Linked DNA regions of Homo sapiens: region 2 is linked to region 1. Evidence: fine-mapped expression QTL. Tissue or cell type: pancreas. Region 1 holds a variant in brackets; the other region holds the start of a gene. All regions are shown on one strand. Distances are from middle to middle.

The links. PIP is the estimated chance that this variant, and not a neighbour inherited with it, causes the effect.
Region 2: it holds the start of MAP7, and the variant in region 1 is fine-mapped to the expression of MAP7 in pancreas (GTEx, PIP above 0.99).

What each region holds. Positions count from the first base shown.
Region 1 is chr6:135,887,012-135,895,011 of GRCh38, reverse strand. The region is part of intron 1 of PDE7B (phosphodiesterase 7B); the gene reads right to left. Among named protein-coding and RNA genes, the nearest start is that of PDE7B, 39 kb to the right of the region's middle. The variant T/C (reference allele first, on the strand shown) is at 3,361.
Region 2 is chr6:136,547,035-136,555,178 of GRCh38, reverse strand. MAP7 (microtubule associated protein 7) reads left to right here and starts at 4,757. Exons shown (of 18, transcript NM_003980.6): 1 at 4,757-4,837. The coding sequence starts at 4,771. It overlaps MAP7-AS1 (MAP7 antisense RNA 1), which reads left to right and starts at 2,674. Exons shown (of 1, transcript NR_186370.1): 1 at 2,674-4,456. RefSeq lists silencers at 4,456-4,805, 4,846-5,025, 5,036-5,085 and enhancers at 4,307-4,844, 5,383-5,921.

The DNA.
Region 1 (8,000 bases):
TATCTTAAACCCTTTTTAGCACATTTAATATAAAGGCATTTGATCAAATTATCCAATATTTAAAATTGAAATATGATTCTTTCTGTGAGAAAAATTTCCTTAAAGAAAACTCTAAAATTAATTTTTAGTTTTTGCAGGCGAGATTGAAATTTTATTTCACGGAGTAGAAATTATGATTGAACCCACCTGGGTAAACATGTTCCCATATTTAGTGGGACCCGTCTCGTACTGATGTGTCCAGATGTTTCATTTTCAATTTAAATAACATGTTCAAGATGTACTGTACATTTCAACGTAGCTGGGTGGAAAGTTAAACATCAGCCACGCAACCCCTTTGGACAGGTTAATTGTGCAGAGCTCATTGGAATAATGCAATTTGGCATGTGTGCCTTGGATGGAGAGAATGTGGGAGGCTATTGTCCTTGGGGTCTCCTCTCTCCTTTTGTCTCCATTTGCCTCATGTTTCTGTCTTAGAACAGAACGCTCTTGTTTCCTTGGAGTCCTTACCCCAAATCACCTATTAAGAAAAATAGGAACAGGTTATAATTCTTGTTATTATGGCTTTCCTGAGACGGAAAAGTGTTTGGCTAATTTCCCCACTCCTTGGAATTCTCCTTATTTGAATTCACTTGAAGGCGGGAGTTAAAGTATCTTTCACGTAGGTTTTTAAATATACATTTAAATTCACTCTATAGTTCTTAACATTTACAAAACAGTGTCAATTAAAAGAAAAATAATATAAAATGCTATGTTTGAGATAGAATCACATAATAAACTAGGAACTAGTTTAAAACGTCTAATAAATAAGCCTTCCCAAACTCTATTTGGTACAGAAATAAAGCATATAGATGTGGTTAACATTTTAACCTAGAAACATTTAAAAATACCAAGATGATTTTGGGAATAAAACTTTTATGGTAGGTTTTGTTACTGATATTTTAGTAATTTCCTTAACTGGCATCACCTATCACCTTAGTGGCCTATTCAATTAATTTTTGGAAGTGGGTGGAATATAAATTATGCATGAATATATAAACGGATCAAGTTTTTAACTGGAATAAATGCTTTTGGTGACAGGTTAAAAGATCTACTTTAAATCAGCTTATAATATCTATTTTTAAAAGACTTCAAAACTTGAAATTAAATGTTCTCTTTTCACTTCAATGACGATGGTGTAATTATTCTTGGGATTAAGAAGATATTGTCATTATTAATTTCTATATAAGTGATTATCAATTCAGAGAGTCTACAATTAGATACCTGCTATGTGCTTATCATAGCAGGAGACACAGGATGATTAAGAAAGGCTCCTTTATAGCAGCATGATTTATAGTCCTTTGGGTATATACCCAGTAATGGGATGGCTGGGTCAAATGGTATTTCTAGTTCTAGATCCCTGAGGAATCACCACACTGACTTCCACAATGGTTGAACTAGTTTACAGTCCCACCAACAGTGTAAAAGTGTTCCTATTTCTCCACATCCTCTCCAGCACCTGCTATTCACAATAGCAAAGACTTGGAACCAACCCAAGTGTCCAACAATGATAGACTGGATTAAGAAAATGTGGCACATATACACCATGGAATACTATGCAGCCATAAAAAATGATGAGTTCATGTCCTTTGTAGGGACATGGATGAAGCTGGAAACCATCATTCTCAGCAAACTATCTCAAGGAACAAAAAACAAACACCGCATGTTCTCATTCATAGGTGGGAATCGAACAATGAGAACACATGGACACAGGAAGGGGAACATCACACACTGGGGCCTGTTGTGGGGTGGGGGGAGGGGGGAGGGACAGCATTAGGAAATATACCTAATGTTAAATGACGAGTTAATGGGTGCAGCACACCAACATGGCACATGTATACATATGTAACAAACCTGCACGTTGTGCACATGTACCCTAGAACTTAAAGTATAATTAAAAAAAAGAGGCTCCTATCCCTATAGGTATTTACAATTTGGTAGAAATCTAAAAGAAGACAGAACAAGAAAAGTGCACAAATGAGCTCTAAAATCAATGCCATGTGGATTCAAAAAGAGGCAAGATTATGGGTAGAAGAGAATAAGGAAGACTTTCTGGAGCATAAGTTCAACAGTGAACATGGAAACAAAGCATATGTCTCATTTATACAGCTTCAGCTTGGTCCATTGCAAATACACTGTAAATAAGGCATAGGCATCTTTACTAAAGATACTGAGAAATATTCAACTTATTGTAATTCCTATGAAGATGGCTAGCTGAACATTTCAAATCGTCTCTTCTATATATGAGCTTCGATGCTGACCCATAATAAGTAACAACTCATGTTAGATGTCAATCAATTTTAGCATTCTTTCTTATTTCCAGTTATCAGCAAATGGTATTTGAATAATATAGAAGAGGTGAGCTATTATAATATATTCCTATTACCCGATACTATGTATGTACTGATGGAAGTAATTATTTAATGACTAGAACTGCTTCATTTCCTTTCATATGCTTCACTAGAAAGTATAGGAAATATCTCCTCAGAATAGAACTCAGATTATAGGACCTTAGAAATCATATGGTCATATGGATCAAATAACTTTTTGATGCATTAGCTATAAAAATAATGCATTATGCTAGTACTGTGAGTCAAGATTTATTAATAATGCCACTTGGGAAGGTACTTGAAGTCACAGGATCAACTGTATCTGCTTGTTTTGTTAGTCTGGATTAGTTGATTCTCACGTTTCTGAAAGCCGATATAATTAAGCTGCTCTCAGCAAGTCTAGGATAAGCCAAAGATATATTTCATAGAAGCCCAAAGAAAGAGGGCAGGAATATAAAGTCATGAGACTTATTTCTACAAATACCACTCAAAAGCCCCTGAAAGTGACTCATATTTAACTTCCAAAATTCAGTGTGTTCACTCAATAAGCATTTGAGAACTCACTGGGTACATAGTAAACAATAATATCAGAAAAGAGGAAAATCAATTCAAATCCATATGGATATAATTAAATTCCTAGTATTCATTTTTTTAATTCAATTTCTTGGGTACCAACTATAGACCATGTGCTCTTCTAGCTGTGGACTGGAGTGGGAGGGGTGGGCAGGAGTAATTATGATAATAAACAAAACTAGCATGCTCTCTTCCTTCCTCAAGCTTACAGTCCAGCTATGCTACAGACAGCAGAGGACACAAGGTAAATATGACAGAATCCTTTCAAAAGAGTTTGCAATCTACTGGAAAGGTAGTAGATACATAATGACAAGGTAGAACATGCTTTCTCTTCTTAACCAGAATTATCATCAAAATCACTTGGAAGGCTTTTTCAAAATTCATATGCCTAGGTTTCATTCCACACCCAAATGAATGAAAA[T/C]GGCTGGCAGTGGAGCCTGAGAATGCACATTTTGAAACACTGTGTTCAGATGATTCTGGCGTGGACCACTGGTTAGGAGCTCCGCGTTTAGAAGGTGTTTGAATTTCTCACCTCAGTTTTGCTCTGACTTCATTATAATGCATCCATAATTTTCCCAATGCTCCTGAAGGTTGCCTTGTTTTCCCAAGGATTATTAATGAGACCTGTGGATGGAATTCTTAACAGATGGTAGGGAGAGATGAAACTATCTTGCCATTTCAACATCTGGCAAATACATTCTTCCTTTAGCCCTAATGATCTATGATTTTATATGCAGTCATCAACACAAAGATTTTCATTTTAATGAGTCTCACTCTTTCAGATTCTTTTTCTAATCATTTTTGTTACTCTTTGGGTTCTCATCTTGAAAATAAATGTATGGCTTCTGCTTTGAAGCCTAATTTTCCAAACAGAACAATATTATAGTTCAGATCTTGTCAGAAATATTAAAGTATGTCTCTGCTCTTTGGCTTATGCCGAGGGAAAAATCTATTGCGCCTGTAAATGCAGCCTCACTTGAAGAATGTGTCCCTTTAAAGCTGAGGCATGTTTAAGATGCGTATGTAATTCAGACCTGTTTGCAGCAGAAACCCTTTTAATCCTAAGAAGCATGTTAAACAAGAGCTTTTTTGGCACATGGCTTATGGATGCAGGAAAAGAAAATATGCCTTTCTTTTATACAGTTAACTGTTCGAAAATAACACGTGAATAAACACTTCAACTTTTAGTAGTTTCTTGAAGATGGGGATACTCATGGGTAGAGCAGCCTCGGTAGAAAAAAAACAACTCTAATATCAGAGTCCTATATGGACCATGCTCGTTTTCCCATTAGCAGTTTCTGCATTTCCTCCCCGGACCTCGAAGAGTATCTTTTTGCTTTCCTAAACTTAGTGCAACTTGCCTTGCATCAACAAAATAGGTGAGTTTATAGTGACTGCCTCTTTTGATCTCTTGCCACATTCTTCTCCTTCTCCTCATTTTGGTGGATATATAATGATCTCAGGGAAGATGGTGCAGACTCCTTGGAGAGTTTATGATGTATTCTCAAAAATGCCAGTCATACCCACTGCGTGCTGGGTTACCATCACAGTCAAGCTGCACCTTTGAAGCTGTGCACATATTCCTTATGTTTTATCTCCAGTAGGACAAATGCTGCCAAACATGAATGATTTACATTCACCGGAGTGAAACAAATCAATAGCAGCACTCTGGTCCGCAACTTTGACCAGTTTGAACGCACAAACAATCTGCATGTGGCTCTAAGTACCATAGGAAATATCTAGAACCTGTCTGATAAACTTACGGTGTTAAAACAATCAGAGAGTAAAGAATAATTTTGTAAGGAAATTCTTCGCTTGTCCACCATATCCCAACATTATGTTTCTTCAGAAATCTCTAATAATGGAAATTCATTTTTTAAAATGTTATTGTTTTATCAGTTTGTAAATTATTGTGAATCATGTATCATACGAAGTAGAAAATAATTATATACATCAAACAATTGGTACACTCATGTCCCTGCCCAATTCACACACTGAGACTGATATAAAAAGTAGCACCATCTGGGTGTGGTGGCTCATGCCTGTAATCCCAGTACTTTGGGAGGCTGAGGTGGGCGGATAACCTGAGGTCAGGAGTTCGAGACCAGCCTGATCAACATGGTGAAACCCCGTCTCTACTAAAAATACAAAAATTAGCTGGGCGTGGTGGTGGGTGCCTGTAATCCCAACTACTCAGGAGTCTGAGGCAGGAGAATCGCTTGAACCCAGGAGGCAGAGGTTGCAGTGAGCTGAGATCGCGTCATTTGCACTCCCGGGTGACAGAGTGAGACTCCATCTCAAAAAAAAAAAAAAAAAAAAAAATGGTAGCACCGTCTGGGTGCGGTGGCTCACGTTTGTAATCCCAGCACTTTGGGAGGCTGAGGTGGGCGGATAACCTGAGGTCAGGAGTTCGAGACCAGCCTGACCAACAAGGCAAAACCCCGTCTCTACTAAAAATACAAAAATTAGCTGGGCCTGGTGGTGGGCGCCTGTAATCCCAACTACTCAGGAGGCTGAGGCAGGAGAATCACTTGAACCCAGGAGGTGGAGGTTACAGTGAGCCGAGATTGCGTCATTGCACTCCTGGATGACAGAGTGAGACTCCATCTCAAAAAAAAAAAAAAAAAAAAAATTGGTAGCACCATTCGGGTGCGGTGGCTCACACCTGTAATCCCAGCACTTTGGGAGGCCAAGGCAGGCGGATCACTTGAGGTCAGAAGCCTGGGTGACGGAGTAAGACTCTGTCAAAAAAAAAAAAATTGTTCAGCTGGAGACAGCTGGACATGGTGGATCTAGAGAGCCAGGGTCTTCCCAGGTCAGGTTGAAGGTGGTTCAGTGAGAGCCTGAGTCACATTAGACCTATACTCTAACATAGGCCTGGGGTATCTGTTGGTGGGTCATTGTATTCAAACCTCAGGATTCCTTTAGAATTTAAGAGAATTTAAAGATGTCCTCAAGAATCTATTAACTGGGCATGACCCCTGGAAGATCAACCTGCTGAGTAAAAGATTCCATTTATATTATTAGGCAAACTTTAGAACTGAATTTCTGCTCAAAACTGAAGTTAGGGATGAATCACTGGGAAAATCATCTAGACTAGATATTTAGTAAAATTCACTTGTAACTTATAGAAATCACACAACTTTAGATGTATTTATAGTATTTCTTATTGTTTTATTTCTGCTTGTTTTCCTTAAGGGCATGTGCTTGTGGTAGATTATATTAATCACATTTATCTTCTGGACACCAGAATTATATAATTAGAAAAAATATTTATAAACACAGAAAACCAAAACTACTACACCTACTGTTGACATTAGTTGTTCTTCTTGGATCTATATTTCTAAATAGTCCAGAACAGTGATGTTTATTTTATACCTATAATATTTATTTTTTATACTACTTATTTTTTATAATATTTATTTTTTAAACTAGTACACCTACTGTCGACATTAGTTGTTCTTCTTGGATCTATATTTCTAAATAGTCCAGAACAGTGATGTTTATTTTATACCTATATTTTATACCTATAATAAGTATAAATAAAATAACAAGAACCTATTCTAAGGTGTTATACATGCACACCTATTTAAGGTGTTATACATGCACACACACACACACGTGTGTATTTCAGCTTTATTGGAGCTCAGAAATGTCAGTTACTTTATCTGAGGTCCCAAAGATAATTATCCAGTAGCATAGCTCTAAGTCCTTGGAAGCAGCAGAACATAATGGTTAGGTACCTAGATTTGCCGTTAGATCTGGGTTCAATAACTAACTGAAGGTCACACTAATTGTGTGACCTTGAGCAGGTTACTTAGTCCTCTTTTTTACTAAGTAGTCCTCTTCTTGTAAAGAGGTTACTCAGTGTCTGTAAGCCTCAGTTTATAAAAGTCTTTAAAACGAAACTCACTGAGGTCATAGAGGTATCATAGCAATTACGTGGGATAATATAGGCAAAAGCACTCAATGCAGTAGTTCACAGGTAGTAAGAATTTGTTAAATGCCAATAGTACTATAGTTGGAGAGAATTAAGAGATGACATAGCAAGATGAAAGATGATGTAAATAATCACAAATATATGTCCAGGGAAATAGTAAGCGCAGTAGAACAAAGAATTGGGGAGTAGTAGGGAGTAAACTGTCAAAAGGTAAATCATGATTGGATTACAGGGGAATCTAAACATTGGGCTGAAAGATTGAGGTGGCTGCTAGAAACAATGAGAATTCATTCAGAAAAGGTCACATGAGATTTATTTTTTGTTTAAAGGTTTAGATTTGACAACACCAAGGTAACTGCCACAAATTATGCTTATTTAGACCAACTAAGTAAACTTGCTCCAAATGTAGATAATTGAGAGGGTGTAGATTTGCATAGCCAATTAAGCCTTTTCAATAAAATAAAGCCCCTAATTAATATATTCTCTGTAAATACTGGGTAACTACTAAGGACAAATCTTTGCTTAATAATTTTGAAAGCAGAATACAGTACACAACATTTAAATAAATATCAAACTTAAGTGTATATTTAGTATCTTTGTCAATATTGGGTTCACCATCATTACTTAGTCTAACTGATACGTTCACTTTTCTGATTTAAGCAGATCCTTTCATATTCTCTTAATTATTTTTCTGGTAGGGTTACAGGTTAGGGAAAATTATTTTAAGTCTGTACAGTTAATCTGCAGAGCAATTATAAAGTACTGAAAGCAAGACTCATTGTTATATCTCCAGCCTCTAACAAAAGGTCTTGCACAGTATAAATGCTCAGCAAATCTTTGCAAATATTAACTATGGATTCAACAAAGGACTAGTATCCAGAAGCCACAGGAACTCAAACAAATCAGCAAGAAGAAAAACAAATAATCCCATCAAAAAGTGGGCAAAGGACATGAATAGGCATTTCTCAACAGATTTACGAACAGCCAACAAACATATGAAAAAATGCTCATCATCACTGATCATCAGGGAAATGCAAATGAAAACCACAATGAGATACCACCTTACTCCTGCAAGAAGACTATTATTAAAAAGACAAAAAACAACAGATGTTGGTGTGATG
Region 2 (8,144 bases), 660 kb before region 1:
TCGCATTAAAATGACTTGGATGCTTTTTCAAAAATATTGATGCCACCACCTTGGGACAACTGAGTTGTTGTTGTTATTTGTTTTTTCTTGGGACAGAGTCTCTGTCACCCAGGCTAGAATGCAGTGGCACTGTCATAGCTCACTGCATTCTTGACCTCCTGGGCTCAAGTAGTCCTCCCACCTCAGCATCCCAAGTAGCTGGGACTACAGGCATGCACCACCATGTCTGGCTAATTTTTAAATTTTTTGTAGAGACAAGGTCTTACTATGTTCAGCTCACTCTGGTCTCGAACTTTTAGGCTCAAGTGATCATCCTGCCTCAACCTCCCAAAGTGTTGGGATTACAGGCATGAGCCACTGTGTCCAGCCGGAAAACTGTTTTTACTGGTCTGGGGTTGGGCCCAGATACCCTTTTTAAAAATTAGTTTCACAGGTGTTTTAACATGATCAAGCTTCACCTCCTTATTTCAGGTAACAGCTAGAGAGGGAAATGGAGAGCCCCTTTCTATAGAGGGAATAGCAAGATGGTTAACGTTCATCATTTGTTTAGCGTAGCAGGAGGCTACACACCCAGGCCTGAAGCAAAACTGTAACTTGACTTGTGACCTGGAACAACTGAATTAGTTTCTCCAAGTCTCAGCTTCCTCATCTGTGAAATGGAGGAAATGATGTACCTTCCACATAGGTCTGCTATAAGATGTAAATAAGAAAATGGAGGCTGGGCGCAGTGGCTTGTGCCTGTAATCCCAGCACTTTGGGAGGCCGAGGTGGGTGAATCACTTGAGGCCAGGAGTTCAAGATCAGCCTGGCCTACACAGCAAAACCCTGTCTCTACTAAAATTACAAAAACTAGCCAGGCGTGGTGGCGCACGCCTATAATCCCATCTACTCGGGCGGCTGAGGTACGAGAATTGCTTGAACCCAGGAGGTGAATGTTGCAGTGAGCCGAGATCACGCCATTGCAATCCAGCCTGGGCGACAGAGCAAGACTCTGTCTCAAAAAGGAAAAGACAATGCAGGAGAGGTGCTCAGCACAATGCTTAGCATACAGTAAACACTGAGATATGCTTGCTATTGCCATCACTTATCCTTCATTCAAAAGTATTTATTAAATACTGGGTACTACATATTGTGGTGCACCAACAAGATACAGTTCTTTCCCCTGAAGTTTCTTGTCAAGGAATCAAGACAAAGCAGAAACAACAGTGGTGCAGTCAGTGCTATAGTTACATTTACTGTCAGAAGGGGTCAAGGAAAGCTTTCCAGAGGAGTGAAGGTGCAGAGCTGAGCCTGGAAAGATGGTTTGAAACAGAACAGTTAATGCAGGGGTGGTGGCAGTGTTATAAAAGAAACAAAACAGGAATTTGCTGGGAGAAGTAGATCTAATGTTTCCTTTTAACTGCATTTTGATCTCTTTCTTCTGTCATTGGATACTTGGTTTCGTTCATCCCTAGGCCACCACATAAAAAAGCTTGGCATTGAGGAATTATTAACCCATTTGAATGCCCACTGTGTGTGAGGCACGGTAGCAACACAAAAGATATATACCATGCCTACCAAGTTCAGAATGCAGGCAGTGCACATGATGTCATCAAGAACATCTGCAACTCGTGAACAAATAAAATAACTGATAGTTCTAGACTTTATGGACACCCTGTAGAGAAGTAGAGGACAAAGACCCTACTACCAAAAATGTGCATCAGATTGAGAAGGCAAATTTGCAATAACTCATGCCTAGTCTATTTTAACAGCTGGACAAGTATCAAGCCCAGCAAGCCCTGGCCAGGTCCAAAGGACAGGCATGCTGGGAGCCAGGGCAGGAAGAACAGGCTTCATGGAGGAAGTAGACCTTAACCTGGGCCTCAAAGGGAAAGTATTATTAAATACGTCAGGATGAAGGACATCACTTCGGGCAGAGCAGCTTCAAGCACAAAGACTAGAAAGCAGGGATTTGGAAGGTGTTCTGGAGAATGAACAACTCCATGGGCTAGAAATATGAGTTACAGAGGTGAAAAGTGGAAATGGGTAGTAGAGAGCTCAGGGCCCAATTAGGGGGTGGTGGTGGTGATGGTGAGGAGGTGAAGTTAATATTTACTTATATAGGAACGGGGAATCTATTAAAGGTTTTTGAGCAAGGGAGAGGTATGTGTAAAGTGATTGTATATTGCAAGATTAATGTGGTTTGGAACATATTAAATTAACAGCAGGGTATCTTGATAGAATTGTGCAGGGACCATTCAGAATGTATTAGTGGAAGTCAGGAGTGAGGTTAAGGGTATATATTCTGGAGTTGGGAGTCACCAGGATCCGGGATGGAAGTAATAGTAAATGAGGGCTGTGAGAGACAGTAAAGATAAAAAGCCTGTGGTTTACAATTAGGGGATGGTAAAAATATTGGAGGATTAGAAGGGAGGAAGAATCTGAGTCAACAAAGACGAAAGGACTGCTACAGAGGAAGGAGAAAAACCAAGCCAATGGTAGACCAAGAGCAAGGTGATTAGAGGATCAAGTGCTGCAGAAACTCTAGGGGAATGATGGATTTAAAAATAAGTAATTTGATTTGTATACATAAGCAAGAAAAACTATTAATATATAGCTTTTTTTGAAAAATAACGGCACCAAAATCCACATTTATTTTTATTACCTTTGGTGAACAAAACATACGACAATAGATTCTGGAGGGTGGGACGTTAAAGGAAGACATTTTAAGAATCAAAGAGTCTTAGCTGTGTTTATTGGGGTAGAGCCCTTGGGTGCAGAAACATTTAGGGATTCGGGAGAAAAAAGGGATGATGTTTGAAGGAGGCAGGAGGGAAGTGGACGGTGTCAGGAGGTTCAGCTCCTCCCCTGGAATGGGGAACCCTGAAGATTTGAAATGGATGTGGGAGCTCCAGACAGATGGCTTCCATGTTCCAAGTAAAGTACAACTTGAAGTACGACGTGATGGTGTTTGACATTTAACAGATGTCATCTGTTCTCTGCAGAGTCACTCAGCAGCCTCCCCTGTTGCAGACACCTCCTTAGGTTTGGAACACACTGTCTATACAGGGCCTAAGTGCAGGATTTTGGTGTGTTCCTTATTTCATTTATTTTTGTTTAACTTGTGGCAGATAAATACAGGTTATCAAAAGAATGGGACAATGAGTAAGCACACACCAAACTAAACAAAACAAAACAAATAGAAACATCACAAGTCTTGAATTTTTTTTTTTTTTTTTTTTTTTTTTTTTTTTTTTTTGGTCAAAGAAAGAACTCATTGGTTGATTTAAGTCGGTGGTAAATCAGAAAGTTGAAAATAAATCACCCTCCTTCTCCAGGGTTCTTCCGGATAGTTCAACTCTAAATTCAGCTGAGAGTATTTCTGATGCTCAAAGAAAAGTGTCTTAAACTCTGATGTTTTAATGTAGTTAAAAAAAACACAAAAAATCTTTGCTGAGGCCCAAGCTGAGGTCAAAAACTACCTCTAGCCATCTGGTGCTTTATTTTTATTGATTAGAAGTCTCTGATAAGACTGATTTGAATGTGATTTAGGAATATCACATTCTAAATGGTCAGTTTGCCTATTCCATTATAGAAATGACACTACGGGAAAATTCATCATCACAGACCACAGCAGAAGTGTTCTTTAGTTAAAGCTCTACCTAGTCATCCAGAAAGCCAGTAAGTAAACCAAATAAAAATAGTTCACTGGGCTCAGAGTGGCAAGTTTTGCATGCAAAGATCGTGAAAATTGTAACCCTAACAATAAATCCAATACTGTTCTCGACTCTCTTGTGTGTCCAGTGCTGCTGCAGTCCTTGGAAGGCTTTTAAACTGTTCAGAGCTTGCTGGTTATCTTCAGCCAAGCCAGAGAGTGGGAGTGCAGTGCATTTTAGTGTAACCATGCGGAACTGGTCGCTCCTTGATTTTGTGCCGTATGTTTCCATTTGTGTAGGCTTTTTCCCCCCTCAGTATTTTGTTGCTTATCCTTTAGAGCGAAATTGGTTTTTCCTCGGCCAATAATCTGTTTCTTTAAAAAAAGAAAAATTCGTTACCTATTGCCTTTTTTTCTGGTCTTCCTGAGCAAGCCAGAAGTCACAAGGTCGTTTACTAAACGGAAACTAAGAAAAAGAAAAGCCACATCAGCCGGCACAAGCCTCTCTAACTTGTGTGCCCTGAGGCTCATCAGATGCGAAGTCCTGGCGACAAGATAGGGTCGCCCGCAGTGGCTTCCTAAAGCGCAGATCCAGGCCGGCTCCCAGCGTGGAATCCGACCCATGTACTTCGCCTCTCCACGTGGCATCAGATGCTCTGCCGGCTGTCACCGTGAACTCCAGCCCTCGCGGAGCCGACACTGACCTGGCTACTTCAGAGTTCGGAGGGAAATAGCGTCTCCGTACCCTCGCCCCACCTGGGCTGCTCCTCGGACCGCCGCTCGTCCCAGACTCCAGGAGGCGCCACCAGGCCTCGCTGACCCCGCTCCATATCTCCGGGAGCCCTCAGCTGGTCGGCCGCGGCGACCGGAAGCTCCGGACTGAGGTACTGGTTCCGCCCGCCGCTCTTCCAGCCGAGACTCGGCAGCGGCGGTCGGAGCGGCTGCCACGCCGCACCTGCCCGCGAGGGGGCGCGCCAGGCCCAGGCCGCAGCCGACTGCCGCGCTCTCTGTCCCCGCCCTCCGCCATCCCCGGACTGCGCTCACCTGTCTGGGCCGCTGGCCTGGGAGGCGGGGGCCGGCGGGAGCCAAGCCGAGGAAAGGGCGGAGCGGCTCTCCGGGCGCGTCATCGGAGCACCATGGCGGAGCTAGGAGCTGGCGGCGACGGCCACAGGGGCGGCGACGGCGCAGTGCGAAGCGAAACAGGTGACCGCACAGCGGGGATAGTGGGGGTCCCGTCGGGCAGGGGACGGCGAGCGGGGCCGGCGGGCTGGCACCGAAATCACCCGGCGCCGGCAGCCCCCTCCCCGCCCGCGCGGCCGCGGCCCGGAACAACCGGCCCTGCGCGCCGCGCACCCTGCTCCGAGAGCGCCTTCCCCCGCCCTTCGCCGCCGCGGCTCGGCCAGCCCGGCTCGGCCCCGGCCGGGGTTGCGGCCGCCCTCGGGCGCTCCACCGCGACTTTCCCGCAACAGGTGGAGGCGAGCCGGGGGAGGAAACGGAGAGACCCCGGCCGCTGCCCTCCCCGCCGCGGCCTCGGGTCTAATTCAGTTGAATGGGAAATCGTATCCCCCAGACCAAACCAGTGGCCAGAGAGTCGTCGGCCAGGTGCGACTGGCAGGACGAGCAGTTTCTGGGCACCTCCTCCCGCCTTCCCTGGTCGCCCCGGGTGCCGGGGGCTCCTCAGCGGGGTCGGTGTGGGGCAGGACCGCGGGGTGAGCGGCCCGCCCCCCAATCTGGTGCCCGCAGTGGCGACGACCGTCGTCCGAGGGGACCGAGCTCGGGAGGGCCGGGGCCCAGTGCAGCACGGTGGGGGTTTGCGAGTGCGGGCTTGACGGGATCAGACTTTCGTTGACTTGTCGGAGTTCTCAGAGTTTTTTGTTTTTAGTCTGTGCAGGAGCCCAAAGGAGGATTGTTGGCTCTGCAGCCCGGGATTTGGTGGTCAGGCCTCTGTGTTGAGGATACCCCTCCCCCACAACCTCCAGGGGCACACTTAGGGACAGGGGATCACGTCCCCAAGACCAGCAGCAAGGCTTCCCAAGACCAGCAGCAAGGCTTCCCAACCCCGCCCATCTCTCCATAGTATGAAGCCGATTTTTCTCCCTCGTGATTTTTTTTTCTCCAGAGGCTATCTTGCAAATCCGTCCCTCTCCACTGGTTCCCTCTTCTATTCTTGGCCAGTAAGCTGTTTCTATATCTTCCTACACTTGGGGATGGGGGCAGTGAGGCAGTTTCTTACTTTAAAAAGAAATTCAATTCTTAGACTCTCCAATTGCAAGCTGTTTTCCACTTCCATACGGTCACAATCGGAAGCATTTGTTTCCTAAATGTAAGAATCACTGTCTCCCCACCATCAAGTATGCTTATTTTAACGTGAAAGGTCCAGAGAGCTCTGAAACAGTATTTGCAAATTATGTATCTGCTATTGCTAGGAAGAGGTTGGGTACGTAAAGTCTAATGATTTAATCCCTTCAGCCAAGATACCTGAGGTTAAGACTGACAAAGTATCTTGAACTTGTTTAAGTCATGCTCCTTCCTGTAGGGAGTTTGTCTTAATGTGTTCGCAAGATTGGTAGATCATTATTTTGTTTTGGGGTGGAGAAGAGATGCCTTTGTAATTGCTTTCGGGAATTTGATGAGCTAGACGCTGGGACGGGGCTCCCCCAAGTGAGGGCCCCGGGAGAGGAGCATCCTCATTTGTAAATATACGGCATGATTTTCGTTCCTAACCCTGACCCAGTAACTGCATGTGAAACAACATTGTTCTAGCGAGCTAAGTGTTAGTTTGTGCTCAAAAATAAACTTTCTAGAATCTGCACGTGAACAACTTGTTCAGACATAAGTGAACTGACTACAAACTGTAGGATATTCAGTGCCTGAGCATGTTAAGGAATAGGCCGTGCTTCCAACAATTAATATACAAATCAACCATGTGCCTGTCAGTGTAATATTTTCTTTTATTAAAAAGGGAGTTAAATTGGCTGTTATCTCCTTCATAGAAAACATTTCTTCCACACTTTTGCCTAAAAACTTCATTTTCCAAAGGACATTTTTTATATATGGTCTTGAATAATTATACTTTATAATTTCACTGAAAACTTAATTCTGGCCCCGCATCTCTTTCCTATTTTTCTACCCCAAGATTACTATTAATGTTTTTAGTGTTCAGAAGCATTTGTGTCAGCAGGTGCCAAAGAAAGAAGGAAGGTGTAAATGTATTTTTTTGAATCTAGGTGGTAGTTATTTTGAGAGAACAAGTGAGATTGTTTGAATTTCAACAACTTAAGTTATTCCATATATTTAAAACACATGACCTATATCTGAATATGAGACTTTAATTTAGCACTTCATTCTGGTGAACATATTTCACATTATACACATCCAAATACTGCAAGTCTCATTTTTTTAAACAATCAGAAGTTTGTATGGAATTGTTGGGGGGGTGGGGGGGGGTGGTGGTGGTGGGTGGCCGTGGACAGAGAAACTATTACCATCAAGAGTTGAAAATTGCCACCTTAAATGGCAACATTTCTTGAGGGATTAATTTTATTTCTTTTTAGAACTCATTATTATGAGGTAGAGTCCACTCTTAAATAACTCTTAGTTTTTGGGTCTCTATACAAAGACTGGTCTAATTTTAGGGCACTTTAGATGAGAATATCAGGTTATTATAAAAATGATACCTGTAATGTGTTCAGAATTATATGTGTGAGTGTGTGTGTGTGTATATGTGTATCAAAGATGAATTGACAGTGGTGGCGTGTGGCCTATGAAATGAGACCGTTCTTAAGCATATTGAAAGCTATTATATAAACCCAACATTTAAAAACCCTATTTCTGTGGGTATATATTCTCAAAGTTAGTCAAATCACATTCTTTGTGGCGAAAACATTTATTTTTCTTGAGGATGAAAAGTTCTTCCAATATAATATTTTTCTTGCCAACAGCCAAAGTTAAGAGCTGGGAAAAAAAAAATTGCCTTGGAAACAAGTTTAAGACATCACCACTAGAGGATGTCAAGTCCTTTTTCAGCCTTTTTTGAGTAGTCGACCTACGATGGGTGATATTCACAAAACTGCCTCTACCCAAGCTTTGTATATTTAATTTTATGTTCATGTTCAAGAGCTGTGGAAAGCGAGTGTACAGCACTAATTTCCTAGTCTGATAGCCTGTTTTAAAAACCTCCTGAACTAAAAGCAAATTTAAAGCTGCTTTTGATTAATTCATGAAGCTTTCATGCACGAAGGAATAAGTTAATGCCAATAACCTGTCAATTCTGTTGATATTTTGGGAAGTGGGTCATGACTTAGAATCTGGAATTGGGCTTTTTGTCCATTTTAGCAACCTGTGTGGTGAACATGGCCTCTTTCGTGACCATCCTTTCATGAACTTTTCCAAATCAAAAAGTGATCTTGTAGGTGTCACTTAACTCTAAGGGTCCACATTAAATATCTGCAATTAAATAAGGGCTCAGACGTCAATTTGGTATTAAGCTTGTCCCCTTTGAAAGAGATGC